Homo sapiens: one gene and its partners. The protein of the gene in region 6 interacts with the protein of the main gene of each other region in a biochemical or structural test. Each region holds a gene or a part of one and is shown on either strand. Other genes may lie near its edges.

The links.
Region 1: the proteins of RASSF6 (region 6) and SNTG1 interact in a test that uses a peptide from one of them, tested with the Homo sapiens proteins (one large-scale study listed by IntAct).
Region 2: the proteins of RASSF6 (region 6) and MAGI3 interact in a test that uses a peptide from one of them, tested with the Homo sapiens proteins (one large-scale study listed by IntAct).
Region 3: the proteins of RASSF6 (region 6) and MAGIX interact in a test that uses a peptide from one of them, tested with the Homo sapiens proteins (one large-scale study listed by IntAct).
Region 4: the proteins of RASSF6 (region 6) and MAGI2 interact in a biophysical measurement, tested with the Homo sapiens proteins (one large-scale study listed by IntAct).
Region 5: the proteins of RASSF6 (region 6) and LNX2 interact in a test that uses a peptide from one of them, tested with the Homo sapiens proteins (one large-scale study listed by IntAct).
Region 7: the proteins of RASSF6 (region 6) and CARD14 interact in a test that uses a peptide from one of them, tested with the Homo sapiens proteins (one large-scale study listed by IntAct).

The regions. Positions count from the first base shown.
Region 1 is NC_000008.11:50,697,600-50,701,906, reverse strand, and holds part of SNTG1 (gamma-1-syntrophin), read right to left. Parts: intron 1-4,307. UniProt on the Homo sapiens protein: Adapter protein that binds to and probably organizes the subcellular localization of a variety of proteins. May link various receptors to the actin cytoskeleton and the dystrophin glycoprotein complex.
Region 2 is NC_000001.11:113,393,212-113,397,518, forward strand, and holds part of MAGI3 (membrane-associated guanylate kinase, WW and PDZ domain-containing protein 3), read left to right. Parts: intron 1-4,307.
Region 3 is NC_000023.11:49,165,594-49,169,917, forward strand, and holds the end of MAGIX (PDZ domain-containing protein MAGIX), read left to right. Parts: intron 1-480; coding exon 481-806; 3' UTR 807-3,181; downstream 3,182-4,324.
Region 4 is NC_000007.14:78,123,979-78,128,285, forward strand, and holds part of MAGI2 (membrane-associated guanylate kinase, WW and PDZ domain-containing protein 2), read right to left. Parts: intron 3,439-4,307; coding exon 3,219-3,438; intron 1,860-3,218; coding exon 1,716-1,859; intron 1-1,715. UniProt on the Homo sapiens protein: Seems to act as a scaffold molecule at synaptic junctions by assembling neurotransmitter receptors and cell adhesion proteins. Plays a role in nerve growth factor (NGF)-induced recruitment of RAPGEF2 to late endosomes and neurite outgrowth.
Region 5 is NC_000013.11:27,561,108-27,565,414, reverse strand, and holds part of LNX2 (ligand of Numb protein X 2), read left to right. Parts: intron 1-2,633; coding exon 2,634-3,002; intron 3,003-4,307.
Region 6 is NC_000004.12:73,585,294-73,589,600, forward strand, and holds part of RASSF6 (ras association domain-containing protein 6), read right to left. Parts: intron 2,642-4,307; coding exon 2,547-2,641; intron 72-2,546; coding exon 1-71.
Region 7 is NC_000017.11:80,175,926-80,180,232, forward strand, and holds part of CARD14 (caspase recruitment domain-containing protein 14), read left to right. Parts: intron 1-2,582; 5' UTR 2,583-2,730; intron 2,731-3,169; exon of another isoform or gene 3,170-3,178; 5' UTR 3,179-3,376; intron 3,377-4,307. UniProt on the Homo sapiens protein: Acts as a scaffolding protein that can activate the inflammatory transcription factor NF-kappa-B and p38/JNK MAP kinase signaling pathways.

The DNA of each region.
Region 1 (4,307 bases), on a different chromosome or scaffold from region 6:
TGCATTCCAGCGTGGGCAACCAGAGGGAAACTCCATCTCAAAAAGAGGAAGAAGAAGAGGGAGAAGGAGGAGGAGGAGGAGGAGGAGAAGAAGAAGAAGAAGAAGAGGAGGAGGAGGAGGAAGAGGAAGAGAAAGAAGAAGAAGAAGAAGGAGAAGAAGGAGAAGAAAAAGAAAAAGAAGAAGAAAAAGAGGAAGATGAAGAGGAAGAGGAAGGCAAAGAAGAAGAAGAAGAAGGAAGAAGAAGAAGAGGAAGAAAAAGAGGAGGAAGAAGAAGAGGAAGAGGAACACGAAGAAGAAGAAGAAGAAGAAGAAGAAGAAGAGGAAGAAAAAGGTATTATATCACAATAGATTGAAAAGCTAGAGAAATGTTCTCTAGGAAGTAAATTTTAAACAGTGGCTGAAAACGAGTAGAATATCAAAGATAAAGTATAGAAAAAGGGTGTTCTTTCCAGAGAGTGGATGGGACTGGCTGGGGCCAAGTCAGGCATTTCAGAAATTCAAAGAAAAGGAGGCAGAAACATTGAGAGCTGAAGCTAGGGAAGGACATGGGATGATTGATCTGGTTATAAATTTTGGACTTGAACACAGTATAATGACAAGCTACTATAGCAAAAATTTTAGTATGCCCTCTCTTTATACTGCAGATATTTCAACATCTACCTTAGCTTTTTAAATTGATAAATTGGCAAAAATCTATAACTAAACGTTGCAGTTTCCAGAAACCTTGCCAATTTTATGGTTTATTAAATTGCCCTTCATTTTCCTTATAATAAAAAATATTATCTAATGTCATTATTAGTCAGAAAATTTTGTTATTTTTTCCTTTTCATAAATCACATGTAGCAATAGGATCTTAAAATGGACTTCATGTAAGATTTTCTATTCTCTTAGCAAAACTTTACTCCTTTGCTCTTTTAAAACTCAATTTAAGATCTTCTGTTATATTACCCAAGTCGTGACTCTCTCTCAGACAAAGCATCCTCTAATCAACTCTGCAAATATAGTTTCAGCATCTCTGAAAACTTCTTGCCATTTCCTGTTGTTATTTATAATATACTTCTCATGAACTGACTCACACTGCAAATGGCATCTGAGCACCCAGGTCTCATTTTAGTGAGGGAGAGAAATATGTTAAAATAACGAGCATATGACAGTGCTATAGAGGTAACATGCTAAGGAAGCAGAATAAGGAACGATAAATCATCTTGAGGGAAAGTAGGAGGGGGAAAGTTGTATTGTAGGGAGAGACTGTAGTACCATCAAGGACTTAAAGACAAATGCAAGAGCAACCTGGTGCAAGCCTGAAAAAGACCAGGTGATCCTGCTAAGAAATTCATAGAATGCACCTGCCAGGAAAAGATATTGGAGAGTTAAGTGAGAAGGGGGCAGCATAGACTCTAAGCTTTAGATGGCTAAGAGTGGATGGGTGGGAGGAGGAGAAACTTTGGAAAAAGCAGGGGTTCCTTTATCAGAAATTTAGTGAAAAGTGACTATAGCTCAATCATTTTAAAGATCTACTTTCAACATAATCATCTAAAATCATTGACACTAGATTTCTTTTACTAGAGTTTCTACCTTTGCTGCCTATAACATTTCAAAAGATTGTGTTCCTTTACGGTTGCAGTCATTATCAAGTTATATGCAAGTAATAATATATATATAACTAACTGAAAAACTAAATAAGATACTCTTAGAGACTGGCATTGACTAGAAGTATTAGTATAATAAGGAGTATTTACACGATTATCCACATAGGTTTAAATAAGAATGTATATATTCCTCTTTCTCACCCTCATTCTCTCTCTAACACACATGCAGGAGCTGTTATAAGGTGATAAGAACAAAAGTTCTAGCTTCAGAATTCTGTCTTGATTTGAATCTCCTCTCTTTTATTTATTAATAGGTAATCCTTGTCAAGTTGATTACCATATATATAGCTTCCTTCACTCATCACTAAAGTGGAAATAATTAATTGATCTGATGATTAAATAAGATACTATATTTAATTCTTTGCTTAGTATCTAATACTTGGAAGTACTTAATGTTGGAAATTTTTGTTGTCAGTATTGATTCAATAAAATAAATACAGATAAATATTCGTATCATTTCCTAACTTGCCTTCTATGGCTTGCTCTCTGCATGCATTTCTCTTTTGTCATAGTTTGACTTATGCCCCAGTAGAAAGAATAGCCTCCAGAATACTTTTTTGCCAACTGGAAAGTATCATTTAATAATAGTAATGATAATAATAATAGCTAAACATATCAAGAACTCATCAGTTGCATTTTTCTCAATTTTCTCACTTCTCCAGAAGTATCTTCTATTTTGTTAGATTTGTTCCAAGTTCTCTCAGATTTATAAAGCAATATTACAAAGAAACAACAGGTTTTTTTTTCAAGATGGCTGACTAGATGCTTTTCCAGGGTACTTCATCCACTTAGAAGAATGACAATGGTGTGTAGACAATCACACTTTGCACATATGAAAGCAAAATCAAATATTGGGACCCCAAACTCACTATACCAAAGGGCTAAGTTTAGGTAGTTAGTCATGAAAAAACTGCCTTCCTTTCATTCCCAAAAAGCTGTAATTTCATGTTTACTTTATGTAAAATGTAGCTTTTCTGCTCATTAGTAAGATCCTCACAAGAATGTGACCACTTATCTCATTGCCTACCCAGACTTTTTTTCTTTCTTCCTCTTCCTGCTTGCTTTTTCCCTGTTAAATATTGAAGTTCCCAGAACCCTTTTTAAAAAAAAGCACAGGGTACAGATCTCCTTGTGATTTGTGTTTCTTTTTCCCAGGCATGTTCTCAACCTTGGCAAAATAAATCTCTAATTGATTAAGATCCACCTCAGTAACTTTTTTGTTTACAAACATATTATCCAAGAGAGAACACAGGAGTTCAACAGTAACACACGAAGAAACTCCAAAATCTGACCAGAAAAAGAAGAACAGTCAGCCTGTGTGGCTGTGGGACTGGCTGAAAATGAGAAGAGAGTAAATTCCCAATATGGGAGAGGGTGAGTGAGTATCTTTCTGTGGTCCAATTTCCCACTATAGAATCATATAATTCAGGCCACGGTAGAGCACCATGACTTTTCTAAGCCCTAGATCTACCTTGGGATGTGGCTGGGAGACTGTAAGAAGTACCTGCTCTGGGAAGTGTCCCATGCACTTCCCGAGACCTTGGAACCTACAACAGAACACCATTCTTGATCCTAGCTCTTTGCAAGCTGTGCACAGTCCTGAAAACTAGCAGCAGTGGCAGCCTTTGTCATTAAAGAGGCTCTAACAGTATCCTGGGGATCTGGTGCTCAAGCAGGGAAGAGGTTCCCACAGCCAGAACCGAGAATCAAGTATGGCATGGGCTCCAGCCATTGGCATGCTGGAACCAGGCTCACCCCATCTTTCACTTCACCCCCTTCCCCCACCAGTACAGGAGGGGATTTGTTTGGGAGGCATAGTGTTGGGCTGTGCAGTGACTCCTAAGGCCTGGGGCAGCTTGTGTTGACAACTAGAAGTAAACTGCACTAACTAAGTGAACAGCCAAACCTACTGACAAAGTTGAGAAGGTGGTGAGCCCCACCAAAAATGGGGGCATGAGAGAGAATCACATCTCACTCCTCTTGGCCAAGGTAGCAGTACTGAGTCCACACCCTTATGCTTATATGCTCACAAACTAGAAAACCTAGAGGAAATGGACAAATTCCTGAAAACTTACTACTTCCTAAGATTGAATCAGGAAGAAATAAAAACCATGAATAGAGAAATAACAACATTGGATTTAAAATCCAATAAAAAAATCTCCCAACTACGAAAAGTCTCCCAACAAAGAAAATCCCAGGAACAGATGGATCCACAACCAAATTCTAGCAAATGTACAAGGAAGAACTGGTGCCAATACTCCTGAAACTTTTCAAAAAACTGAAAAGGAATTTCTCCCTAACTTATTATACAAATCCTGTATCACCCTGACACCAAAGTCAGCCAGAAACACAATAACAAAAAATAAAACTACAGACCTATATCCCTAATTAACACAGATATAAAAATTATCAATAAATTCTCAACAAACTAAATCCAACACATCAAAAAGATATTACATCATGACCAACTTGATTTTACACCAGAGATGCAAGAATGATTCAACATATGCACACAAATAAATGTCATACATTACCTAAACAGAATTAAGGCCAAAAATCATATGATCATCTCAATAGACACAGAAAAAGAATTTTTTAAAATTCAACATCGCTTCATAAGAGCACAAGCTCAAAACCCTCAACAAATGAAGCATAGAA
Region 2 (4,307 bases), on a different chromosome or scaffold from region 6:
CCTATGCCCCCGTATGTAGTTGACATTATTAGAGTAATACAGTTTTGCCCTCTTGACAGCCACAGACACTGTTCTATTTTAAAGATTTAGCCAAAATAAAGGGAATAACGTATTAATGGCCACAGAACATTTTGTAGTCATTAGTAATAAAGTTCTGAATACTACACTTGTTTTTTGAAGAGACACTTTGTGTCAGTAATTTCTCAAGATACCATTATGTCTGTGTTATTTGAGATTAATATTGTTTCTAAGCAGGTTGTAATTTAAAATTTTTAATCTCTTTTAAAAATAGTATTCTTAGCTTCTTAATAGCCTCATGTTAGGTATTATATTAAATGGCTTTCTTAAATGGCTTTGCTTAAAAGCAACATTTGTTATAAAATAGCAAGATTTTTGCAGGTTAAACAGACTTTAAATACTAGAAATTAAGAATTTGAAGAGGTTATCTGTAGAACTTTTGAGTTTGATTAAAAACAAATATTATTTTCAGAAGAGACAAAGATTCTTTATTGTGATTCATTTTGGAAAGGATGAAAATAGAGTAAGGGAATTTAAAAAGAAACTTGCCATAAACATTGTTTTATTTTTTGCTTTTATCTAAACTTTGTGACAGAAATTGATTTTTCAATTTAATAAGGTATTGTAAAGTGTACTTAGCACTCTCTTGTCTTGACTAGTTGCTTTTTATTAAACCATATTCATAACATGACATTTAGAGACTAGCACAGTGAAAGAGTAAAATTTAACCATTTTTGTAAGATGTAATACTAATCGGAAATGTTCTCATATTGTCTTCTGACAAAGTCCATGGCAGAAGGATGAGCTGGGTTGTAGAACATGGCTTTTGTAGCACTGATTCTTCCTAGCCTTCTTTTCACTTAGGTGCTAAGGGTCGCCCTCCCAAAGCCAGTACTATCAGCCAGGTGACTTAACATCTTTCTGGCAGCTACTGTCTTTAGCTTTGATTTTTTTTCCCTTTTTTTGTTGTTATAATCTTTAATAGAGAATTGAAAGTTACTCTTTAAAATATGGTTTCTAATCTGAAGCTTTTCCTGAATCAATTAGGTAGTTTCTTATTGTTTTAGTGTAGTACTTAGTAGTCAGTACTTTGCCCGCTTATAGAAGAATCTTTGGTTTCACCTATTGCTTGGCTCGATTAGTTACTTGTTTCTTAATTATGACCCTGTTGTTTATTTTTCTGCAAAGAGAAAAGTTGTCATTTGAGTTTGAACTTTGTCTTTTCCCAGTAGTAAAGTTGAACTTTGGACCTCTGGTGAAATTGTTTTGTGATATACTACTATGACTAGGTTTAGTTTCTTTGATTTTACTACAGAGTATATATTCTTAAACCATTTCTATTCTGATTAATATACAAGTAGTGAATTTTGTTCTGAAATTCCCCAGACTCTAATTGTGCAGAGTTTTATGCTTCTTCATACACCTTTAAGCTCATATTTCAGCAGTTTGCTTTCAGTAAGTTTCAGTAAATTATGTGTATTTTATTCCAGAGATTAAGTATCGGTACAATAAATACATGAAATCATTGTCTACTGCCATATGCACACATTACATTCAACTACCCTAAGCAAGTAGTGTATCCAGGGATGGAAATCATAGGAAACAATGTTATAGTTTGTTTAAATAAAAACCAAGTTGAAACAGTTCCTGGGTAATGTTAAAGGTAGGTAAAAGTCTTCACTGCTGACTCTTTGGGACATCCAATTTGTAAGGGAGTTTTGTTAAAATGGGCTAATTCCTAGAAATACACTTCCTGTTGGTGAAGAAACACTACTGGATGCTTTAAAATAGGAAATATTTATGTTATTCAAATAAAAATAATGCTGTGCCTTTCTTATCTCTTGAATCTTTTTGTTAGTTTTTTTTTTTTTTTTTTTTTTTTTTTTTAGTGGGATATTTAGGATTTTTGATGAGTTTTGTTTAGGTGGTTGTATTATATGAGGATGGGAAAGGTAAGAGAATTTAGAGTTAATTGTTAGCCTCCCAGGCTTACAATACATTTCTTCGTACCTTTTTTAAAACAAGAAAATCTAGAGACCTAGAGATTATTTTAGAAACAATAGAAAAAGAAGCAAGCCAAGCCCCTTTGCTAGGGAAAGTAGCATTACATTTTGATAAACCTTGAAGTTGAAAATTTCCTATTTCAAATTTTGGTAGTTTTTTTTTCTTTTTTCCCTAAAGCTCTTAATAACTCAGGGGTTCAGGTTTTGGATTCTGTTCATTGACACCTTCAATTCATATGAGTAATGGGCTTACACCTTAGCAATTGCAAGCTGATTTGCTTGCATGATATTTGATGACTTTTATTATATCATTAACATCTTTGTACTTAAAAAATATTTTCTCTCCATCATTCTCTAAGAGTACTATATCCAAATATCTCAGTATGTATATATGTATATACGTGTGTGTATATATATATTATATGCATATATGTATATGTATATACACACACACATACTTTTGTTAACTTTTCTTGTATATCATTTTCTAGTATATCATTTTGGGTACTTTATTGATCCTGCCCTCACCCCCAGACTTTTATAATTTAGTTTGTAAAACTTTATTTTCCTAGGTTGAGGCATTTTAATAATTCTTTAATTTCTTGCTATCTTACTGGTACAAACAAATACTTAACATTTGGCCATTTGATTTTTAGATGATTTTAAATTTTATTCAGTTTATTGCTAAAACTGATTTTCATGTAACATAACTCTGTGTTCCTGGGACGTATACATTATTTTTCCTCTGAGATCCTGGCACATACTTTATAAAACCTTTTGTTTTGAGAGACAAATTTTTGTGATTTTTTTTCTGCTAATTTATGTAAACTGGCGACAAAACAAATCTTCTAAATTCATTCAAGTGTCTGACTTATGAAGTCAGTGCCTAATCTTCTCAAGTGATAGTTTCATACAGAGTCTTTACTATGTAACCCCTAAGTGCTTTGTAATTTTTGGGGGGACTTAGTGTTTTGGGAGTATGTTGAAAGAGAATCTTGTTTTTATGGATTACTTCAGTATTATTTACCAATTTCAAAATCTGTGAATGTCAGGGTTGTGTGTGTGTGTGTGTGTGTGTGTGTGTGTGATTTGACAAAAGATAAGTGTTTTGGTATTGAAGACTAGAACCGTTTCGCCTTTAATAAATTATTTTTTGTCTTCTGAAATTTTGAGCAATAATTTTCTTGAAATACTACATTTTGGTAGATAGAGTGAATGCCCTGAATTTAAAACTATTGTCTAAAGTAAGAGTTTCAGAAACTTAGAAGCTGGTGTTATGAGACATGTTTGTAGGGAAAGAGGCAAATCCATTCATTGCTCTTCTAGCTAATTTTGCTAACAAAATATCTTGCTAATATTTTGTTTTTGAAGAACAACTATTATTCAGAATGTTTTCCAAGAAAAGATGCATATTTTATTTAATACAGAAAAAATAAGAAGTCCTATTACTGGCACGCATTCATTCCCTCAGCAAATACTTAGTGGTGCACCCACCAAGTGCCAGCATGGAGCTAGCACTGGCGATATAAACATGAGTCAGAAATTGTGTGTCTTCAAGAAGCTGGCAGTTTAGTGGGAGCTTAATGACTCATTGGTAAGGAATACCTGTAGTAAGGGTTTTGCCTTTTTCACTTTTCTGCCAGTGTTTAAAACTCTTTAGGTAGGTCTTAGTATGAATTTTGGTGAAAATGAGACTAACTGGCTGCATAGTGTGCTATTCGAAAAAGTAGTGGAGCTGCATTTTAGAAAGGATTTGGGTTCTCAAGTCATCACAAAAAGAGGGAAATCAAATATAAGCAAAACTGTCTTTTCAAAAAGCCCTTAAATTGTGCATAAAATACTATATTGTACTGTTTGTAGGATGAGTCCAAATGCCACTTTTCCACCCATGTTGGAACCAATTGCAGTTTTTTGGTCGAATACCAGAAGAAGTAATTTGCTTGCATTAAAAAGATATGTTTTACAAAAAAACTTTTAATTCTAAGAAATTATCCTCATCTAGGTATGTACAGTGAATTTATGGAAATTAAATGTGTACATGAAGTGAAAGAATGATTTCTTTTCTTTTTTTCTTTTTAATATCTTGGTAGGATCCACGCCATCTGCCCTTGTTTTCTGACTTGAGTGGTTGAGGAATGAATTGTGAATAATTTTGAACTTGTTTGGGTTTTGAAAGATGACAGATTTTGGTTGAGTGGAATTAGGATCTTTCCAGTAGTAGGTAAGAAGCAGAGGAGGAGAAAAACACAGGGCAAAAACGTTCCATACAGAAAGGTTTACAGTGTG
Region 3 (4,324 bases), on a different chromosome or scaffold from region 6:
GGGTTTTCCAGGTACTGGGGGAAGAGAAGGGAAGGGGTCTAGGATAAAAGCAAGTGTTTGGAAGGAAGGGTCTTAGTTCTCAGAGGCGAAGGCAGAGTGGATCTTAGCCGGGGGAAAATGGGATGGGGATCCAGAGGGTAGGGGGTCTAGTTCTGAAAAACAAAGGGTCGGTGGTTTGGGAGTCAACGGAGGTGGGATGAGAGAGGAGAGAGCAGGGGCTCCTAGATGAGCGGGGTTTGATTTCCTTTGGAGATTGTGGGAAATGATTTCTGAGGGGCATGTTCTGGATCCAGGAGGGGAGGGGTCTCGGGAAAGGAGGTGTCGGGGTTGTGAGGGGTGGTGCCGATCCCAGAAGGCCTGGAGGGGAGATTTCTCTAAGGGTCAGGGTCTCATCTCCCGCAGCCTTTGGGTTCTCCTGTCCATCCTCAGCCAAAGGCCTGGATTTCCCTTCCCTACTTCACCACCCAATCTAATCCGTAGTCCCGTCATGGCCAGATCGCAGCCCAGATCCTGGAGGGCCGGAGGTAACGGGGTCTCGCAGCAGCAGCACTTCCCTAGTTCAGCACCCTCCATCCCGGACGACGCTCAAGAAGACCCGGGGCAGCCCGGAGCCTAGTCCAGAGGCGGCCGCCGATGGCCCCACGGTTTCTCCTCCTGAGCGCCGCGCTGAGGATCCCAACGACCAGATCCCGGGTTCCCCGGGGCCCTGGCTAGTGCCCAGCGAGGAACGGCTCTCGCGGGCCCTAGGGGTCCGGGGGGCAGCGCAGCTCGCTCAGGAGATGGCAGCCGGAAGGCGGAGACACTGAGCCTACCTCTGACAGCGCGGGGCTCACTAGTTACCGCCCAACCTGGATCCGGCGCGTGTGGCCGCTGGGCACTTGGCACCTCCCCAAGAGCTTCCACTTGGTTTGGTCCCCCCACCCGCTGCTCAGTGGCTCTGACCACACTCCCCTCGCAGCGTCAGTGGTACGACCCTTCCAGCCGGCTAGCCTGCGCTTCTGGTTCTGGGAGGGGGAGGTAATAAAATGGTTCGATCCGGTCTTGACTTGCCAGGCGCTCGAGGCGGGGTGGGGCTGCCCGGGCCACTCTGTAAAGGAGCAGGTGGGTCGATCCTGCTTGAGTAATCGCTGACGAGCTTCGTGCTGCTGCTTTCCTGCTTGCACATGTTATCTTTGCTTCTGCCGGTCCTCAGTCTGGCGTGCTTTCTTTTTCTCTTCGCCGTCTCCTGCTCCTCTCCTTATTCATTAATTTCACCTTTTTGGAGGTGTACAGGGTCTCACACATAAATTATTGTGCATGGCATGGAGAATGCAGAGGTGAGCCTGTCGTGGCAGGACTGCACCAGTGTATCCACAGTCCTGTCTCGGAATCATACAGACCCTCAGCTGACGTCGGGATAGCAAGGCTAGAAGCCTAGAAGCAGGGCAGCTTCCTTCGCCAGAGGCCTGCGGTCTCCCACTTCCGGCCTAGTCTGCCAGCTTTTGCTGGCACGTAGGCTACCACTCTCCGGGCACCGGCTGGGGTCCTGGAGCCCCCTTTGGGGCGGAGTGGGGAAGGTGTGAGTCAGCGCCCCTGGACGGGCCGGGCTAAAAAAGGCTGTTAGAACCTTTGGGCCGTGCCCCCATTTTCCGTACATGGTGAAGAACTGCAGCCGGGCTTGTGTGCACACGCCACACACTGGGCGTTCCCGGCACGGGAGAGGCCCAGAGTTTCCTTCACCCTGGGAACAGAGCCCTACAGCCAGGGCTTATATGGCCAGCGGGACTCCAACCGGGGTAGCCGCGAGGAAGGCGCTGGCAGAGGACAGAAATGTCCAGTCACCTCCGCTGTCACCACATCCTGAGCACTCGGCCCCATCCCCCCACAGGAGGGAAGCTGTGGTCTGACGGAATGGGCAACTTTCGCCCCTGTGGGGAGGGGACGGGGAAGGAAGAAAGAATTTAAAGGACCGGAATGCGAGAGTCCAGGTGGCCTTGGAGAGGAAAGAGGAACGGTGAAGACAAGCTGCGAGAGCTGGGAGCTGGAGGGTGAAGAGGTGAACACTTGAGTGGTTAGAGCTGTAGATAGACATTGTGGGGAAGTGTGCCAGGGTGGCTTCCAGCTACCCCTGACTTAGAGCCTGGTGGAGGTGTGGTTCTTCAGAAGTCAGCAAAGGGCTCAAGAGCCCCAGTCTATAAATACAGTCACACCCAGGAGACTAATAATAGTAACCCCAGCCACCATGTACTTAGTTTTATCCCTGCTACTGGCTTTATTGCAATATTTATTTTCATCTACAATAGTTGCACATCTACTCAACTATCCGAATATGTCCATTTCGCAGAGGAGGAAAGTGAGGCCCAGGGAGTGCAGATAGCTACAGAGAGGAGGGTCAAAGCACGATTTAATCAAGGCCTGATTCCCAAGTCTGTCCTCTCAATTTCACCTGCATTGACAAGTATTAATTGAACCCCAACTGTATATGTTGCACTGTGCTAGGTACTGTGGAGATGCTGGAGGAACAAGACATAAAATTTCTTTGTGTAGCTGATGTATGTAATGAGAGTAGACAGATGTCAGACAAAAAAGACGAGAAAATGAATAAATAAAAAACCAGGCCAGGCGTGGTGGCTCACGCCTGTAATCCCAGCACTTTGGGAGGCCGAGGCTGGTGGATCACGAGGTCAAGAGTTCAAGAGCAGCCTGGCCAAGATGGTGAAACCCCGTCTCTACTGAAAATACAAAAATTAGCCAGGTGTGGTAGCAGGTGCCTGTAATCACAGCTACTCGGGAGGCTGAGGCAGAGAATTGCTTGAACCCAGGAGGTGGAGGTTGCAGCGAGCCAAGATCGCACCACTGCACTCCAGCCTGGGTGACAGAGCGAGAATCAGTCTCAAAAAAAAAAAAAAAAAAAAAAAAAACTTCAGGCCAGACATGGTGGTTTGTGCCTGTAATCCCAGTACTTTGGGAGGCGGAGGCGGGTGGATTGTTTGAGCCTACAAGTTTGATACCAGCCTGGGCAACATAGACCTTGTCTCTACAAAAAGTTTAAAAATTAGCTGGGAGTGGTGGCTCATGCCTGTAGTCCCAACTACTTGGGACACTGAGGTGGGAGGATCACTTGAGCCTGGGAGGTCAAGGCTGCAGTGAGCCATGATTGCACCATTCCACTCTAGCTGGAGTGACAGTGAGACCTTATCTCAAAAAAAAAAAAAAAAAAAAAAAAAAGGCCAGGCTCGTGGCTTACATCTGTAATCCCAACACTTTGGGAGGCCAAGGCAGGCGGATCACCTGAGGTCAGGAGTTCGAGACCAGTCTGACCAATATGGAGAAACCCCATCTCTACTAAAAATACAAAATTAGCCTGGTGTGGTGGCACATGCCTGTAATCTCAGCTACTCAGGAGGCTGAGACAGAAGAATCGCTTGAACCCGGGAGGTGGAGGTTGCGGTGAGCCAAGATTGTGCCATTGTACTCCAGCCTGGGCAACAAGAGCAAAACTCCTTCTCAAAAAAAAAAAAAAAAAAAAAAGACAATTTCAGAGAGAAGTGAGAGTCATGAAGCTATGAAGCTAGCAAAAGGAGGTTACATTGTGGGAGATGATGGTGAGCTTCTGGCCTCTTTGAAGACATAACTCTTGAGCTGCAACCTGAATGACCAGAAGCCAGGTATATGAAGCACTGAGTGAAGGGCATTGACAGCAGGGGGAATAGCAAGTGCAAAGGTGTTGAAGTGGAACCAGGTTCATCTTGTTTCAGAAATTCAGACGTGTCCTCACAGAGTTGGAAAGCACATACTCATCACTAGGAAAAGTATGTTTCATCCCTTCCACTATTCACTCACTCTTCCGGCAACCGGGGCTGAAAGAGGGGAGCTCTTTCCTTAGTTTTGAGGGGCCCTGTGTTGGCAGAGAGAGCAGGCAGGCCCTTGGGTTGAATCCTCCTGGCCATCCAGTTATGATTCTCCCCCACTTCAAATGAGATGAGAATAAAAACAACTTCTAGTCTGGAGAGTGTGTCCCTCAGGGTACCTCTGGGATCCTGATTCCAGGAGACGAGATGCATGTCTTAGATGCAGAAATTAAGGCTGAGCTGGGGGAAATTACTTGCTCAAAATAACACACTTAGCCAGGCGCAGTGGCTCACGCCTGTAATCTCAGCACTTTGGGAGGCCAAGGCGGGAGAATTGCTTGAGGTCAGGAGTTCAAGACCAGCCTGAGCAACATAACGAGACCTTGTCTCTACTAAAAAATAAATAAATACAAACAAAGTGTCTACAAATGTCACCCAGCCTTGCACCCCAGGAGCCATCCATTCATCTTGCCAATCCCCCAGAAATAAACTTT
Region 4 (4,307 bases), on a different chromosome or scaffold from region 6:
GTATTTCTCTATTTAGGCTTCTTTGCCTTGGGAGTACTGTGTATATCCAGCAGCGAGTCATTTAGATCCCTTGTGAAAATACATGGCCACTGTTTGTAACCGACAGAGACCAGCCCTGTAGTCCACCGTGGGTCTCTATCTCTCACAGGGCTCTGGCCATTTTGCACATGGTCTTCCTACTGTGTTTCACCTGCACTGGAAAGATTAATTTTGTTTTACTTAACTGCTTGTGAGCTGGCCTTATAGCAGGTTAAGAAAGTGTCCTTCTGGCTTATAGGGAAGCTGTAGAGCCAGGAAACCATGTGGAGGCCCATCTTCAAATCAGGGCTAGACGGGGTAAGAGGAGGCTGGTGCTAGATCACGGGGAGGGCTGCCAGTCTCTGGTGTCAGCCCTGCCTGGGTTTAAATTCCAACTTGGATGCTTCCCAGCTGTCAAAGGATTGTGGTAGTGGGGAGAAACAAAGACATGATGTGCATGCCTTCTGCTTTTGGACTGTGGATAATCCTCTGACTTGGAAATGCGTATCATAGAAATGCAGACTTGGTGGTAGAAATAACAGATTCAGCCATCAGGGAAAATTGGTTGGTGAGGCTCTGCACAAGAACCTGAGGTTCCGGAACCCCAAAGCCACAGCTTTTCTTTATTAACTTAAAGAGGCAGGAGGGAGGGCAAGAATAAATTCTAGATTTTATTCATACACCGACACACACACACACACAAACACACAGAGAGAGTAAAGAGACTAATATTTTATATTGTTAACAAGCTTTGTTTTATACCCTTAAATGAAGAATCAGTTACCCATCAATCAGATGCCTCAAAGTAATTATTAAATGAAAAAATCTACTCTTAACTTTAATTGGAAAATTTCTAGCTGCTGTCTTTTTTTTTTTTTTTTCTTGAGACAGATTCTCACTCTGTTGCCCAGGCTGGAGTGCAGTGGCACGATCTTGGCTCACTGCAACCTCCGCCTCCCTGGGCTCAAGCGATTCTCCTGCCTCAGCCTCCTGAGTAGCTAGGACTACAGGCGCCCGCCACCACGCCTGGCTAATTTTTTTGTATTTTTAGTAGAGATGGGGTTTCACAGTGTTAGCCAGGTTGTTCTCCATCTCTTGACCTTGTGATCCTCCCGCCTCAGCCTCCCAAAGTGCTAGGATTACCGGTGTGAGCCACCACGCCCGGCCCCTGCTGTCATTTTTAAGAACAACCTGTATCCAAGAAGCCAAATCCCTTTTACTCCTAATGCTTCTGTCTGCCCAGTATCAAACCAAAAGACCAGTCAACACAAAGGAAAAATTTCCTAAAAGTCCCGCAAAACCATGTGATTAATCAATATGGGGGAAAAAGCACAAAACTAAAAATAAATTTCAAAAGATTCAACCTTAATCAAAACAGAATCATCAAACCATAGAAAGAATTATGGAGAAATAATGTTTCCTTTTCAAGCTATTTCTTAGATTTCTTTCATTTGCTCTTTAGAAAAATAGTACTTTACTGAGGTTAATCAATTAGAAGGTCATAAGCAGAAAAATGAGAATGAGAGATATTATAAAATAGCAAGTGGCCAGACTTTTAAGAAACTGGGTCATCATCAACTAGAAAGAGGGCAAACCTACAGCAACCCCGCTTGACAGCATGCTTCAGTACTCTTCCAATACCACAGTCGGTTTTTCTTTCAGAATTAAGCAATTCTATAAAAAGAGACTGTTCTTACCCTCATCCTCCCATTCCTTATTGCTGGTCCATCTTCTGCCAGTCTCAACACATACAAATCCATTTTGTATTCCCTTCCTCCACGAATGCTGAATCCAAATCCTTTGGCTCCTTTCTCCATGTCCACAGTGAAATAATCAAAATCCTTTGGGGTTGGGGAGAAAATGGAATAAATAATTATTTAGTTATCAGAGAAGCTTCTGTGGCTAGTCTCTGTGTTCTCCTTCTGTCTCTTAGTTAATGTATTCCAAATGACATGATGTTGGGAGAAGTCGTAATCTGGCTTCATAAACTACCCAAATGAAAGACAAAATTCCAAAGGTTTGAGCAGGCCAGAGCACAGTTTACTTGGTCATCAAAGAATTACTGTGTAGCTTGTTTACTTTGGTATTCATCAGTTTACTTGGCAAACGTGGAATGATTACAGATAGGCCTGAGTGACATCATCTCTCCTTTTACTTCTCTCATTCACTGCTATTGAGCACCATAAATAAATGTCAGGTGTGTGTGTGTGTGTGTGTGTGTGTGTGTACAAATTACAGAGTTTGCTGATTAGAAAAGTAAAATTTAGTGGGATCTGATAATTAGATCTCTCAGTTGCACAGACTATTGAATATCAAGTTGGAATGTACAAAATCAATTTCTCTTTTACCTAAAATGCAGTATGTCCAAGATTCTCTGATCTTCACTATTCTTAAAATCTTTGGGCATAAAGTTGATCTTCAATTCATAATAAAACACAATGTAATCTGATAGAGTTGAGATTGTACTTAATTTATATCTTGGTATGTAGTTACGAAGTAGGAAATATTTTCTAGATACCAAACTCTGGTCTAGACTCTTTTCATAAATGTTGAATCCTCATCCTGGCCTGTAAGGAAGACTCTCCCTTTAGGAAACTGAATCTCAGAGAAGTTAAGGAAGTTGACATGAAGCACATCAACAAATAATCATAACAACAGTGACACTGGTTGTGTAGACAGAGAGTTGTTGGCTGTGGCAGGCGCTACACTCTGGATTGTGAAGCCAAGCCTGGTCTTATTCTTACGCACAGGGGCTTGGCCCTTTATCACAGAGTGGCAGGTAGGGGGCCACGTAAAAAAATATGGACCTAAAATACCTCCACTGCTAGCATCTATAAAATTTTCTGCATTAGCAGCACTCTCAGAGGTCCCAGGTTAGAGCATTTTTAAAACTTTGACAAGGAAACGTACAAGGAGTTAGCTAGTATTAGCAGGGATTAGTTTATTCCATTACTACTCATCCGCTATTTATTTATGTATTTATCCATATTTATTTATTGTCCTGCTTTATTCTGAAATAGATTTATTTATCCAGCATGTTTCTGAGGATGCAGGTGTTACCCCGATGTTACCAGAACTAGGAATAGAACTTCAGCTCTCCATCCCAGACAGGTACTCTTTCCTCTGCCTCTCCTATTTCATTCCTTGCAGTTCTCTGGAAGCCTTGGTCAGGACCCACCCTGCTCTCCGGGAGGAGGTACCTGGGGTTGTCTGTAGTCCGACAGAGGGTACTGCCTGGTGTCGGGGGAGTGCTGCCTGTAGTCCAGTAGGGGAGGCTGCCTGTAGTCCAAGGGTGGGGGCTGCTGGTAGTCCCCTCCTGGGGGTTGCCTGTAATCCAGCGGGGGCTGCCTGTAGTCTGTGAATGGAGGCTGTCGGATGTCTGGTTTCACATCTTGCCTTGCTTTCACTTCCGACCTGTAACTAAATCAATGGAAATGGGATTTGCTTTTGTAACTCTGCATTCTAAAGAGGCTAGAGTGATCACACGGCCTCCAGAGGTGGGCCAGCCATGACAGCTCACACAAACCACTCCTCTCGGTGGTCCTGTTGGATGCTCAGGATTATGAGAAGGTTAAATATTATTTAAAAATCTCTGACAAATGCCATATTGTATGCTTTTTATTTGGCTCCTTACGAAGTCAAGGTAAAAATGATGGTTCAACCAGAACCTTGTGAAAAAGCACTCATGGATGTTCCTCTTTGACTTTGGCTATTTAAAAACTGTACAGCCACAGCAAATCAAGGGATTGAAGCACTGAACTATACAAACCAAGACATCAGCCTATCTTAAGACTGGTAAACCAACCTTCCTCTCTCACTCTTACTTTTTTCTCTCACACACACCCCTTGGCAGATCATTCATTACTTCATAAAAACATGATTGAAGTGATCTCTAAATACATTACAAATACACAATCAAAGGCTATTTTAACCTGCTGAGTTGGGTCTTTTTGAATATTTTACAGAGGTTAAAGGAGTGATGGTAAAATATAATCACCAACTACAAACCAAGTGGCAAGTCATTGGACCATTGGTAAAATTGGAAACATATTACACAGAGGTAATACTAGATCATAGCTATCAAGATTAGCATCAAATACTACTGTGGTCATAAGATGGAAGAGAAGGCAAAAATGTTTATGTCCAACATTTATCTCTTGCTTGCTTCTAGATATTAGTTACTAATGAAATAAACACAGAGATGAGAGCTAGGAGTGTAGCATTGTTTTGTGAATCCAAACTGCTTTAAGCTGAGGGGGTTACTAGTTTCAAAAGAAATAGCCAATCCC
Region 5 (4,307 bases), on a different chromosome or scaffold from region 6:
TTTCTGCAGCCCACTGAGTGTTCTTTGACTCTCCCACTTCTGGGCTTTTTAGCTGAAATGTAAGTGTACACTTATTTTTTGCTACTAGCCCAGTATTGTTACAAATGTTTTTATTTATATTTCTTTGAATATAACAGATTTGTTTAAGTTTTTTTACTAATACATTTCATCAGTGGGCTTGTTTCTATTTTAGAGAATGGTTCATTAACACTACTGAATCTTTAGACCTCAAAAGATTGTAATTATCTGAAATTATCAACCATATTTTTGGGAATTAATTCAGTTATAAAGTCTACATTGTAGAAATTCCACTGCATTATTACTGTTTATGGAAACCTGTATACTAATAACTCCAATAATGGCAATCTTACATCTAGTTTAATGATTCAAATTGATAAGAAAAGTCTGAGCACATAATCTGATTAATGAATTCACAAAGGGTCTCTCCTATTATAGGCCCTGACTTCTGGTTGGCTTTTAACTGGTGTGTTGGAGCCAAGTAAAGCCACCCCCCTTTCCCACATATGGACTATTTATGGTTATTCAAGAGTAAACACTTGGAAAGAGGCCTATTGGTATTTTTTACTATCTGGTTACCTCCAACTTTGTATAAGCTAAATAAATATAACACAGTGAGCCAATTTGAAAATCTCGAAGAGGCAGTAAGATGGTTGATTTGCAGACCAGAGAGCTAGCTTGCATTTTCATTTTTGCAGACCATATACATAAGCAGTGTGTGGCTTTGGTGGTTTTCCCACATTTATATATATTTATTTACATATACAAATGTTATTAAATAGCCTCTTTGAAAAGGAGAACCATATGCTGTTAGAGCTTTTTGCTACTCTTAGAGTTTCATATGCAGCCTCTTTGAGCAGTTTTGAAGAAAAAAAAATACTGCTATTATAAATTACCTCAATATCATTAATAAAAGTAATATAACTTAGAACATTATTAAGAATAAGTATTTTCAGTTTAATGAAGTCATCAATAATGGCATTTTCAGTTCTGAAGGAAAATAATTACAGCTGTTGATTGATAAAAAAATACATTTAGCTCAAAAATGAGATAGTTTGCTATGCTGATGTTATTTTTACAAAATCTAGAAACAATATTTTATTTGGTTTCTGCTTTCTCTGAATTTCACTGGCAACCATGCATTCCTGGAGGAAAAATCTTTTTCCAGTTGTAGAATATTCCCCAGCCTGCTTCACAAAGATGTTATGAGGCTGCATGTTTACACATGGCTGGATTTTAGCCAGACGTTTTGTAAAGTCATTTGTGATATGTGTGATATGTCTGAATATAAGACAGAAAAATGTGAACCTACAGGTAGGTAGCTTTGTAGCTAAATAGTTGGAAATGGTGGTTTGACTAATGAATCTATATCTGCGTGGATTTTTAGAAGCTGCTTTCTAAATATAATAGAACTTCAGAAGTTCCATTCTTGACCCTGTATTATTCAATACTTTTACCAAGGACTTGGATGACTACCAAATTAATAGATGTTGCAGACTTGGGAGAAAGCAAGTTTGTGTGTGACATCTGTGCATTTGGTGACTGAATTCTGAAAGGTGTTAATAGGTCAAAATCAACAAAATTCAAAATAGTATTTACAACTATCAATCCTAAGTCAATAGGAAGAGGAAAGTCTTGCCTAATGTGGATTTGTGTGAAAAAGATGTAAGAATTTTAGGTGATCATAAACACCTAACTCAGAGCCTGTCATATAACAGATGGTCAGAGGATGTTGGTTTCATCTCAGACCGATTCAGAGAAGAACTCTAATTGTGATAAATGCTAAGAATCATGCTCATCTCTTGTAACTAAAGAAATAATTGAAGTTAGGTGTATTTTCTAAGTGCTGTTACATACCCAAGGATCAGTCACTATACTTTTTTTGAGATTATAAAGGTGAATACATAAATGTTATATGAGTATTGAATAATGCATTAGATATACATTATATTTTACTTTTAATGGTAAAAACCGTAATTACTTTTGCACCAACCTAATATTTCTGTGCTGAAGAATTAGAGTGAAATTACAATTAACCTGGTTTTCTTTCAGGTAAAAGTCACTTATCTAAAATAAGTTTGTATACCTGAAATGTGCTACTTTCCTTAAAATAACAATTTATTTTCTCTAGCTTAAGTGTATTTAATTTGGAAGAAGCAAATTTGTAATCTAGTAAAACTTAAATTTCTGTTCCACTAGAATTAGTATTTATTTCATTAGCACTTGCCCCATGTTAATCTGTTCATTCTCATACTGATCCCATGAAGTAAACACATTTTACAGATGAGGAGACTCATTCAGACAAGTTCTATAATTTGCCTAAGTTATCAGTTAGTAAATGGTAGTACCTAGGACTCTAATTCAAGACCGTCATTAAAGCCCGTGATCCTAGCTACTATTCTCTCCTTGATGCTAGTCACTGTAAGTTAATATTAGAAACTCTGTTTTTAAATGTCTTTAATGTGGTTTTCTTTGTAAATAATGATTGTATAGCATTCTCACCATACTTAGCACTCTCACAATACTTAGTTTCCTGTGGAAATGTCACATAAACATTCCTACAAATTGGAAAAATAAAAGGTTGTCACACTTCGGTCACAATTCTTTTTTTCTAGGTCAACAACTACAATATCAGCAATGTGTCCCATAACTATGCCCGAGCTGTCCTTTCCCAGCCCTGCAACACACTGCATCTTACTGTGCTTCGAGAGAGGCGCTTTGGCAACCGAGCACACAACCATTCTGATAGTAACTCTCCACGAGAAGAGATTTTCCAAGTGGCTCTTCATAAACGGGACTCTGGTGAACAGCTTGGCATTAAATTGGTGCGAAGGACAGATGAGCCAGGGGTTTTTATTCTTGACCTGTTGGAAGGGGGGTTGGCTGCCCAGGACGGCAGGCTAAGCAGCAATGACCGAGTGCTGGCCATCAATGGGCACGACCTGAAGTATGGAACTCCGGAGCTTGCTGCCCAGATTATTCAGGTAAACCCTCTTGGCCTTCATTCCAAAGGCTTGGCCGAAATGATCATATAGTAGTATTTGTTTTCACTGGCCAATAACATCAGAATTCAGGGGACATTTTATATTTCATTAGAAAATCGGGTGTGGCTACCTGAATTCTTTAAAATCCACACTAGTATAACTTCATTGGAGATAGTCTTTTCTAAAAACTATATCCCTGTGAATTTTGGGGATGGTTATTTACAGAGCGTAGGCTCTACTGTTTCACATTCATTTCTCATTTGGGTCCTGGGTTCTACTATTAAGCCAGATGTAGCAGATGATATGTCCACCTTTTAGAAGTGAGGAAAGGGAGGCTCAAAAGAGCTGTGATTACCAAGGATCTGACTTACCTGGTCTCTTAACTCCCTGTCAGGATCTATATAAATAGAGGAAGAATAACTCTTATCTCTATAGTGCTTTGTTGTTGTTTCTAAGGAATTCACAGTGTTTAAAATACATGATAAAATTTGTCCTCATAGCATCTTTGTGACATAAGTAAGGATAGTCATTATTAGAGAAAGAACATGTTTTTCATAAAAGCATGAAGATGGATAAGTTGGAAAGTCATCCAGAGGAGATCTATACATTCTGCAACATGCCATAGCATTTAATGATATGAGCAACTTCTACAGTGATAAGGGTGCAACAAAAAGATGTTTTTCTTAAAGTTAGCAAAACAAAACACTGTAAAGGAAACCAAGAATTATGTAATTGAGGATCAGGAAGTAGGGTAGGCCGATAGTCATTGAAGAATGTGTTTACAACACAGAATCAAATAACAATGAAAATTTAAGACTATAAGAAAATTCAAGTCTCAACTCTCTTTATTGTATTGAGAGGAGATTCTGATATTGGTCTAATTTCATAGACTTGAGGTTTAAAGAAATTGGATGCCTTAAAATTTCCTCAAATCAAAGGCAACATTAGGACCTATATCTGTGGGTATTAGCCAGCAGCTGCACCACTAAAACCCAGCTCATCTTGTAAGAGTGGAGATTAGTGGGAGGGAGGGGAGAAAAGAGGAGGAGGAAGAAGAAAGCTAATAGAGTTATAGCATCTGTTTGAGTAAAAGAGTCAAGTGAGAGGCCAGATCAATAAGATAGAAAATAATAGATGGACTATATGTATTTCAGGCAATGTTTAAATTATCTAATCTAGTTCATTCAATTGGATGATTCTAACTAAATTTCTAACCAAAATGTGAAAAATACAGATACACAGATAGAAAATGTATTTTAAATTGTCCGTGATCATATTTTATATTTGGATGTTATAAATAGTTTC
Region 6 (4,307 bases):
ATAGAGCACTGGGGAGTCTGGTTCATCCTTTGCATGTGGCTTCAGGGTGTTGCTGTGATAAGATAAATAGTCTGGGAAGAATAGATTATAAGCTCATATCATTCAGCTGCCTGTGTCCTAGCATCCTGAGTGGATTTGTGTATGCTTTCATTAATTTTAGGAATATTGCTATTTTCTGGCTGTGTAAAAGCATTATAGTCCACTGCTTAGCTGCATATTTACTTATTAAATGTTGCCTGAGACTGACTCAGCAAATTCTGCCAGTATCTCATATAAAATTCTTATGTCTCATTCTTATGTTTCATAAGAAATGATCACAATGATCATGTTTGGGGTTTGGGCATTCCTTTAATCTTAATTTATTGGGGAGTGCATTTTGTGGCATTTCAGAGTGTTAGAGCTGGAATAAACCTGATACTTTATCAGGTTTGATCTCTTACAGGTAAGAAAAAGTACAGTGAGTTGAAGTGGCTTTCCTATGGACATAGTACTCATAAATGATAGAATCAGGTCTGGATCCTTATTTTTTTATTTTTATTTTTATTTTATTATTATTATACTTTAAGTTTTAGGGTAATGTGCACAATGTGCAGGTTAGTTACATATGTATACATGTGCCATGCTGGTGTGCTGCACCCATTAACTCGTCATTTAGCATTAGGTATATCTCCTAATGCTATCCCTCCCCCCTCCCCCCACCCCATTATATGTTGGCCCAAGTTCTTTGGAGCTTTTCCTAAAAAATAAACACTGGGCCTTAGTTTTCCTATAAAACTACAGAAAGCTCTTTGAGAAGCTATTTATATGGTATGTGGAGCATTGAAAGATTTTGTTCCCATCTTTTATAAAAGCAAAAGGAATAGTATGCTTTGGACTAGTCCTACTATTTGTAATATATCACATTATGTTCTTTTTAGAACATTCCAGATGTATGATATGAATGACTTTTTCACTTAGTTGTCCACTATCCTATTATTTCTTCTCATTGAGTCATGTATATTTAACAATGATTCATAATTGATTAGTCAAAATTTGGTTACTGAATTATTACAATTTCTATAGCAGATTTTAGAGTATAAAATTATAGTGTAGCGTTGAACAACTCTAGTATCTATTGAGTAGGCAGAAGGTGTTTAAATGGAATTGAATTGAGCTACAATGTGTTACTAGCCTAAGATGCAGAAGATTCAAACCTGCCTTCTGCCCCCCTTTCTGCTTGTATACAATTGATAGTACCTTTTTCAATTTCCTCTCCTATGCATATTCATATGTAAGAATAAGACCATGTGGTGGCATTTGTGTTTTATTTTACTTTAGGATTTTAAAAAATTTTCTACTGTAATTAGAACATTATCAAATAGGCATGAGATATTTCTTCCTTCTCTAGCACTGCTGTTTAAATACAAATATATTTTTATGATGTCTTTGATGCCAAGATACTGGGATTTCCTTGGGTTTCATATATATTTCTAAAAGATAATTGGAAGGGCCGATATTTAACAAGATGTAAAGATCCCATGGCATAAAGAGAAAAGGGAACCCTGGAAGGAACATCATGTTTGTCACAGGATCTGGGTTCCTGTGGAATAGCAGACGAGGCAGAATTGAGAATGATTTGAAAAAAAAAAAAAGAGAACAAACATTGCAAGTTGCTGGTAGGCTTATGAAGTTAATGCTAGTGGGATACCTTTGTTCACACTGAACTGACTTCGTAAATCACAGCCCCATTTCAGGCACATGAACCCTGTCCACCACCCCTCATTCTAGCTTCAGTCATCAGCATCCACTACTCTTTGAATCTTATGTGTTTATGAGAATTACATGAAAAAATTCATATAAAGTACAAAATATTATGCCTGATACTTACCAGAGTCTCATCAGATTACAGCTATCAATATCACTATTATTACTCTCACATCATCACCATTATGATTATAACTACTAATGTCACACATCCCTGGAGCTGGCATTTCCCATTGGTTTGCCAAGTTCAGTATGGATCCATTTGATCCTTAAGTATATTTCTCTTTTAAAAAGATCTCTGAAATAACTCTATCAAATATAAAATTGACTCCAGCATATCTGTGTCTTTCTGAGAAGTAATGTTATTGACATATCTATTAACTAACTAAAACGTTCAACTTCTAAAAAGATACAGAATTAGGTCTGATGGGCTTGGCCTAACATATAAAGCTATTGGGAATAATAAATGACTCTAATCTTTGGGGAAGATATTTAACAATTTTATGAATACAAACTTTATTAAAACTATTAGCTCTCCCTATTCTAATAAATCTAAGTGACATAATATAATTTTTTTAAGAATTATATTTTTATATACCAAAGTAAGGTTCTTAAACATCATACAAGCACTATAGTGACTTAAGTTACTATGCTCCTAAGATATTTAAAAATATATATACATATAAAACAAGAGTTTATTGTGTAGTAGTATGAAAAAGGTTAGATTTCAGAGAAACATATGGAGTCATACTTTACACTAATTAAAAATTAAGTCTCCCAATCAATAAGATTTTGATACTGACCTTCCTGGGAATTCCTTTTTTCAGACATAGGAATCTGGGTCCTGTCCAGCTCACTAATACGATAGAGATCGTCAAATTCCCCCCAGCGTGTCATTCTGAGAAGTAATAAATCTTGTAAGTACATCAGTTCCATTTATATTGAAGCCTATGATGGTTTCCAGATTTACAATATTAATATAGTAATACTGTGGGCCTCTGTAGGTGGATATATTGTCCAAAGTTATAACAATTTTATGATATTATTAAAATTATATTCATACCAAAGTGGTCAATATATGTTTTAAATGCTTCCTGTACTTTTATAGAGCATATCTTTTTGACGTAATAATTCAGTTACATACTGAAACACAAGTTATATAGATTCTGTAAAACATATGTCCAAATTGAATTAGTAGAAACCAAGATGATCAATTGTTATAAAGATATTTCACAATACTCTTAGGGGAGCTTGGGTATAAAAGTGTTCTTTATACATTCTGTCAATATGTATTGTACCTTTTGCATTCAAAACATTGTTAGGTAGAGTGGCTCTAAAATAATAAAATATAGTGCCTATCGTTTAAGGCCCTTGACTACCATGAAGAATGTAGTTTACGAAGGAGGAAAATGTATGAGAATTTTGCCAGAAAATTATGATTTCATAAAGAAACTAGCAATTTTAAGTGCATTCTAGTGCTCAGAATACATGAAACCTGACAAATGTTTATTTTTACGGCAGGTCAAAACTCAATTTTATTTTATTTATCTGGTCTTAAACAAGTTTCTTATCCCCTCTGTGCCTGTGTCCTCATCTGTAAAATAAAAATGATAATAGCATGAGGTAGGATAGGGTTGTTTTGAGGATTAAAAGAGTTAATTTGTATAAAATTCTTGAATCAGTGCCCTGAAAATAGTAAGCATTCAATATAGATTAACAATAATTATAATTATCCTCATCTCCATTGTCATCATCATCATCATCATCATCATCATCATCATCACCAGCATCTGTATCTATTTCATTCCTGATGGGCCAGGAACCATTAGGGACCCAAGGTGTTCCTGGATCTCTCTAGGCAAATGGTTGCTATTATCTAAGAATCTCTTCAGTAATGTCTGTTTTTCTTATGACTAAAATATATTCACTTATAGGGAATTTATGGCATTGACTCTGCCCGAATTTCATTGGTGGCAACAAAAAATATTTATTAATACTAATGGTAGTGAATATGAAGAAAGTCATCCCTTATCCTCTTTACTTTTGAATTCTTTTGAAGCGTGTTTTATGGCTACTATATCATTTGAGTCTCACAATAGCCTTATGATGTAGAGAAGGTAATCCTAATATATTTGTTAATTTTCCAGCAAGCTGTACTATTCAGAATACAGCCAATCAAAACAAATGTCATAAAGCCCAACTACAGGTAATAACTTTAACTCAAAGGAAAACTACCAGGTCCTGACTCAGAATCTAATTAGTCTTATGGCAGATAAAATTACCCATTTCCCCAAATCTATAGCAGCTTAATAATCAGAAAGTGGCAGACATAATTATCGTAGAAGGGGGGTTAGGAATGGAAAAGTCAATACCAATGAAAAACAGAAACTAAAAATGCAAAGTAACCTGATGCTATGTCATAGGGCTAAAGATAAGAATCCCCAGGATGCCAGTCAAATTCTCGGTGACCCTCGCAGACGTGACAGCTTAGTTTTGTCACACAAATATAGGAGGCCAAAAGTCATCCAATATATTCTGTGTTTGGCCCCTTATTTTTTTCTACC
Region 7 (4,307 bases), on a different chromosome or scaffold from region 6:
GTGGGATTGCCAGCTGCTCTCGGATCGTTTTTTTTTTTTTTTTTTTTTTTTTTTTTTTTTTTTTTTTAAAAACGGGATCGTGCTATGTTGCTAGGCTAGTCTTGAACTCCTGGGCTCAAGCGATCCTCCTGCCTCTGCCTTCCAAATTACAGGCATGAGCCACTGCACCAAGCCTGGATCTTTTTTTTTTTTTTTAAACAACTTTGTTGAAATATAACTCACGGCCAAACACAGTGGCTCACACCTATAATCCTAGCACTTTCGGAGGCTGAGGGGGGAGGATCACTTGAGCCTAGGAGTTTGAGACCAGCCCAGGCAACATAGTGAGACCCCCTTCTTTACAAAAAACAACAACAACAAAAAAAATGAGCCTGGCATGGGGGCACATATCTGTATTCCCAGATACTCCGGAGGCTAAGGTAGAGGATCACTTAAGCCCAGAAGACGGATGTTGCCGTGAGCTGAGATTGCACCATTGCACTCCAGCCTGAGCAACAGAGCAAGACCTTGTCTCAAAAAAAAAAAAAAAAAAAAAGGAAGAGCTATAACCCATACGGCACACAATTCACCCGTTTAAGATGCTTCTAGTGTATTCACAGATGTGTGCAATCGCCGCCACAGTTAACTTTAGGACATTCCATCATCTGTAAAGGAAACATCCCCTACCTTTAGCTACCATCCTGACATCCTGATAGACAGGGGGCCTGAAGACCCCTCGGTGATGCAGGGCAGGGCTGGAGTGGGGGCCCTGGGCTGACTTTATTGCTCGCTATTGCTGCCTTGAAATTCTGAATACGTTTTTAAAACAAACGCACCATCCTTTCATTTTGCCCTGAGCTCCACAGACGATATAGCTGGTCCTGAAGTGGGGCAGAGGATCATTCTGACTTGGAGTCAGACTCTAGCGACGCAGGCTTCTACTGGGTGGAGGCCCAGGAGCTCAGGAGCCTTCTGTGGGAGTGTGCCCATTGGCAGCGCATCCCTGGAGATGGACGGACAATTTCCACATCGCCTTTGCCCCTGTGCACGCTCCCTCTGGCTGCCGTCATAAATTACCACAAACTGGGTGGCTTAAAACAACAGAAATGTATTTGCTCATGGTTCTGGAGGCCAGAAGTCCACACTCCAGGGGTGAGCAGGGCCGCACCCCCATGAAGGCTCCAGGGAGGGTCTGCTTCATGCCTTCTCTTGAGTTTCTAGTGTTGCCACCGACCCTTGGCGTGTCACTCCAGTCTCGGCCTCTGCCAACATGGGGTGATCATGGGGTGTCTAGGCCTAGGGCCCTTCTCCTCCTCTTCTTCTTCTTCTTTCTTTTTTTTTTAAGACAGGGTCTTGCTCTGTCGTCCAGGCTGGAGTGGAGTGGCACTACCTCAGCTCTGCAACCTACACCTCCCAGGCTCAAGCGATCCTCCCACCTCAGCCTCCTAAGTAGCTGCGACTACAGGTGTGCACCACAACACCTGGCTAATTAAAAAAAAAATTTTTTTAGGCCAGGTGCAGTGGTTCATGCCTGTAATCCCAGCACTTTGGGAGGCCGAGGCAGGCGGATCACTTGAGGTCAGGAGATCGAGACCAGCCTGGCCAACATGGTGAAACCTTGTCTCTACTAAAAATAAAGAATTAGCTGGGCATGGTGGCATGCACCTGTGATCCCAGATACTCAGAAGGCTGAGGCAGGAGAATTGCTTGAACCCGGGAGACAAAGGTTGCAGTGAGCCAAGATTGTGCCATTGCACTGCAGCCTGGGAGACGAGCAAGACTCTGTCTCAAAAAAAAAAAATTTTTTTTTAGCAGATTTTAGCAGAGACAAGGTCTCACTGTGTTGCCCAGGCTGGTCTCAAACTCCTGAGCTCAAGCAATCTGCCCGCCTTGGCCTTTCAAAGTGTGGGATTACAGGCATGAGCCACCACACCCAGCCCTTCTCCTCTTGTTATAAGGGCACCCATCCCTGGACTAGGGCCCACCCTAATGACCTCAACTTGATTACGTTGGCAGAGACTTATTCCCAAATGAGGTCCTACTTACAGGTACTGGGGGTCAAGACTTCAGCATTCTTTTGCGGGGGGCCACAATCAGTGACACCCTGACTCGCAAGCCTCAATCACCTGTTCCAGTGAGAAACAGGACTGAGATCAGAAGGAATGAGGCAGAGCTGCCCTCGATTGGTTCTCCTCTCCTCCTCACCTGCCCACCCCGGCCTCTGCGCCCGTCACTGTCCTCTCCAGCTGTTCTTCCTTCCGGGCAAGGAGACTCAGCAGAAGGGTATGAGTGGCCTGGCCCTGTGGGGAGCCGCAGACAGGCCTGTGGGTGCTTTGGATAACTACTGCGCCTGTCAACTCTCCTTGGTAGTCTAGGGTTCAAAGCCCAGGTCCATTCTAGAAGTCTGCTTCCAAGTGCTAAGGAAGCTTCAATAGTTACTGGGAAAACCACAGGGGTCAAAGGTCCGTCGAGTTATTTCCCGGATCCGAGTCTGACGTCTTTTCCCCGCCGCTTGCGGTGGTTGTGACCGAACCTTGAGTTTTGGAACAGGTCACATGGCTTTGAAATCACGGTCAATTCACCTGGTGCTGCTTTGACTTCAGGCTCTTCCTTCTGCCCAGCTCCGTCCCACCCAGCAGCCCGCAGAGAAAGGAGGCAGCTGGCACCACACTGGGCTTTGGAGACACTGCGGGGACTGTGGACCCCACCCTGCTGCACGGAGCTCCTGCAAAAGCAAACCTGAGAACCTTGGTGAGTACTTCCGGAGACCCGGCTCCTGGGACGGCTTCTGGCGCTGCTCCTGCACACACGACTCTCCAACGATCATTTTCCATGTTTTATTTTTATCTTTTAATTTTTGAGATGGAGTCTCACTCTGTCACCCAGGCTGGAGTGCAATGATGCAATCTCAGCTTACTGCAACCTCTGCCTCCCAGGTTCAAGTGATTGTCCTGCCTCAGCTTCTCAAGTAGCTGGGACTACAGGCACCCGTCACCATGACTGGCTAATTTTTGTATTTTCAATAGAGACGGGTTTCCACCATGTTGGTCAGGCTAGTCTCAAACTCCTGACCTCAGGTGATCTGCCCGCCTTGGCCTCCCAAAGTGCTGGGATTACAGGCATGAGCCACTGGCCCCGGCCCATTTTCCATTTTTCAGATGACAGGTGTTGATTTGCTCTGATTTTCAAGTATTTTTAGCATACAGATCCCTGCAAGAGGCATCTGTCTCCAGTGGTCCAGCCTCTCCTTCCAAATGAAAAGAATCAAGTCACAGGAATTCATGGGTCTGTAAGGAATCGCTCCCATCTGTGCCCAGGAGATTAACAAAGGCGGTGGCTGCAGCTCTGTGAGCAGTGGAGAAAAATTAGGCACAACCTGATATCCTCCCACAGGAGCGTAAGTCCACTGTGGTTATTCATATCATTGAATCCAGTGCACAGTTTAAAGGACCATGCATGTATCAAGCTGCATGTATCAGTATGAGAAACCTCAGAAGCCGTACAGCCTTGCACAGAACGATAGTTTCTGTGAAGTTCCAGCTAACACTGAAGGCACTGTTGATGTAAAGCTGCTGTCTGCACGAAGTATCATGCAAAGATGCTATGTACTGTTTATACACACTTCCATTTGTAGGAAATGATTTTTAAAATATCATTTTTAGGCTGGACTGTAATCCCAGCACTTTCAGAGGCTGAGGTAGACAGATCACCTGAGCCCAGAAGTTCGAGACCAGCCTGAGCAACATACGGAGATTCCATCTCTACAAAAATTAAAAAAGAAGCCAGGCATGGTGGCGCATGCCTGCGGTCTCAGCTACTTGAGAGGCTGAGGTGGGAGGATTGCTTGGGTCTGGGAGCTCAAGGCTGCAGTGAGCCACGATCACGCTACTGCGTTCCAGCCTGGGCAACAGAGTGAGACCCTACCTCAAAAAAAATCATTTTTAAATGATTTTAGAATGTCTGGCCAGAGAGGGAGGGAAGAGGGACTGAAGAGAACAAAAAGGCGCCATCTGCCTCGCATTTCCTTAAAAAGAAACCTGAAGTGCAGAATGTCAAGATGGTTGAATCCGCATGGTAGATATGTGGATATTTGTTATTTGCAGGATTTTTTAATATGCTGAAAACAGTGCACAGTTTTAAAACATTTTAAAATTATTTAGATGGATTAATGGGCTAATGGCCTCATGTTGATGCCAGAGAGGGGCTCAGGCAGGGGCACAGTGGGGTACACAGCTCATCTCTCGCTGGGATGGGAGGCTGGGCAGGTGACGGCTGAGGACCTCCAACAGCTCTTAGAGTCTGCACTAGCCAGCATGTCCCCTGAAGAG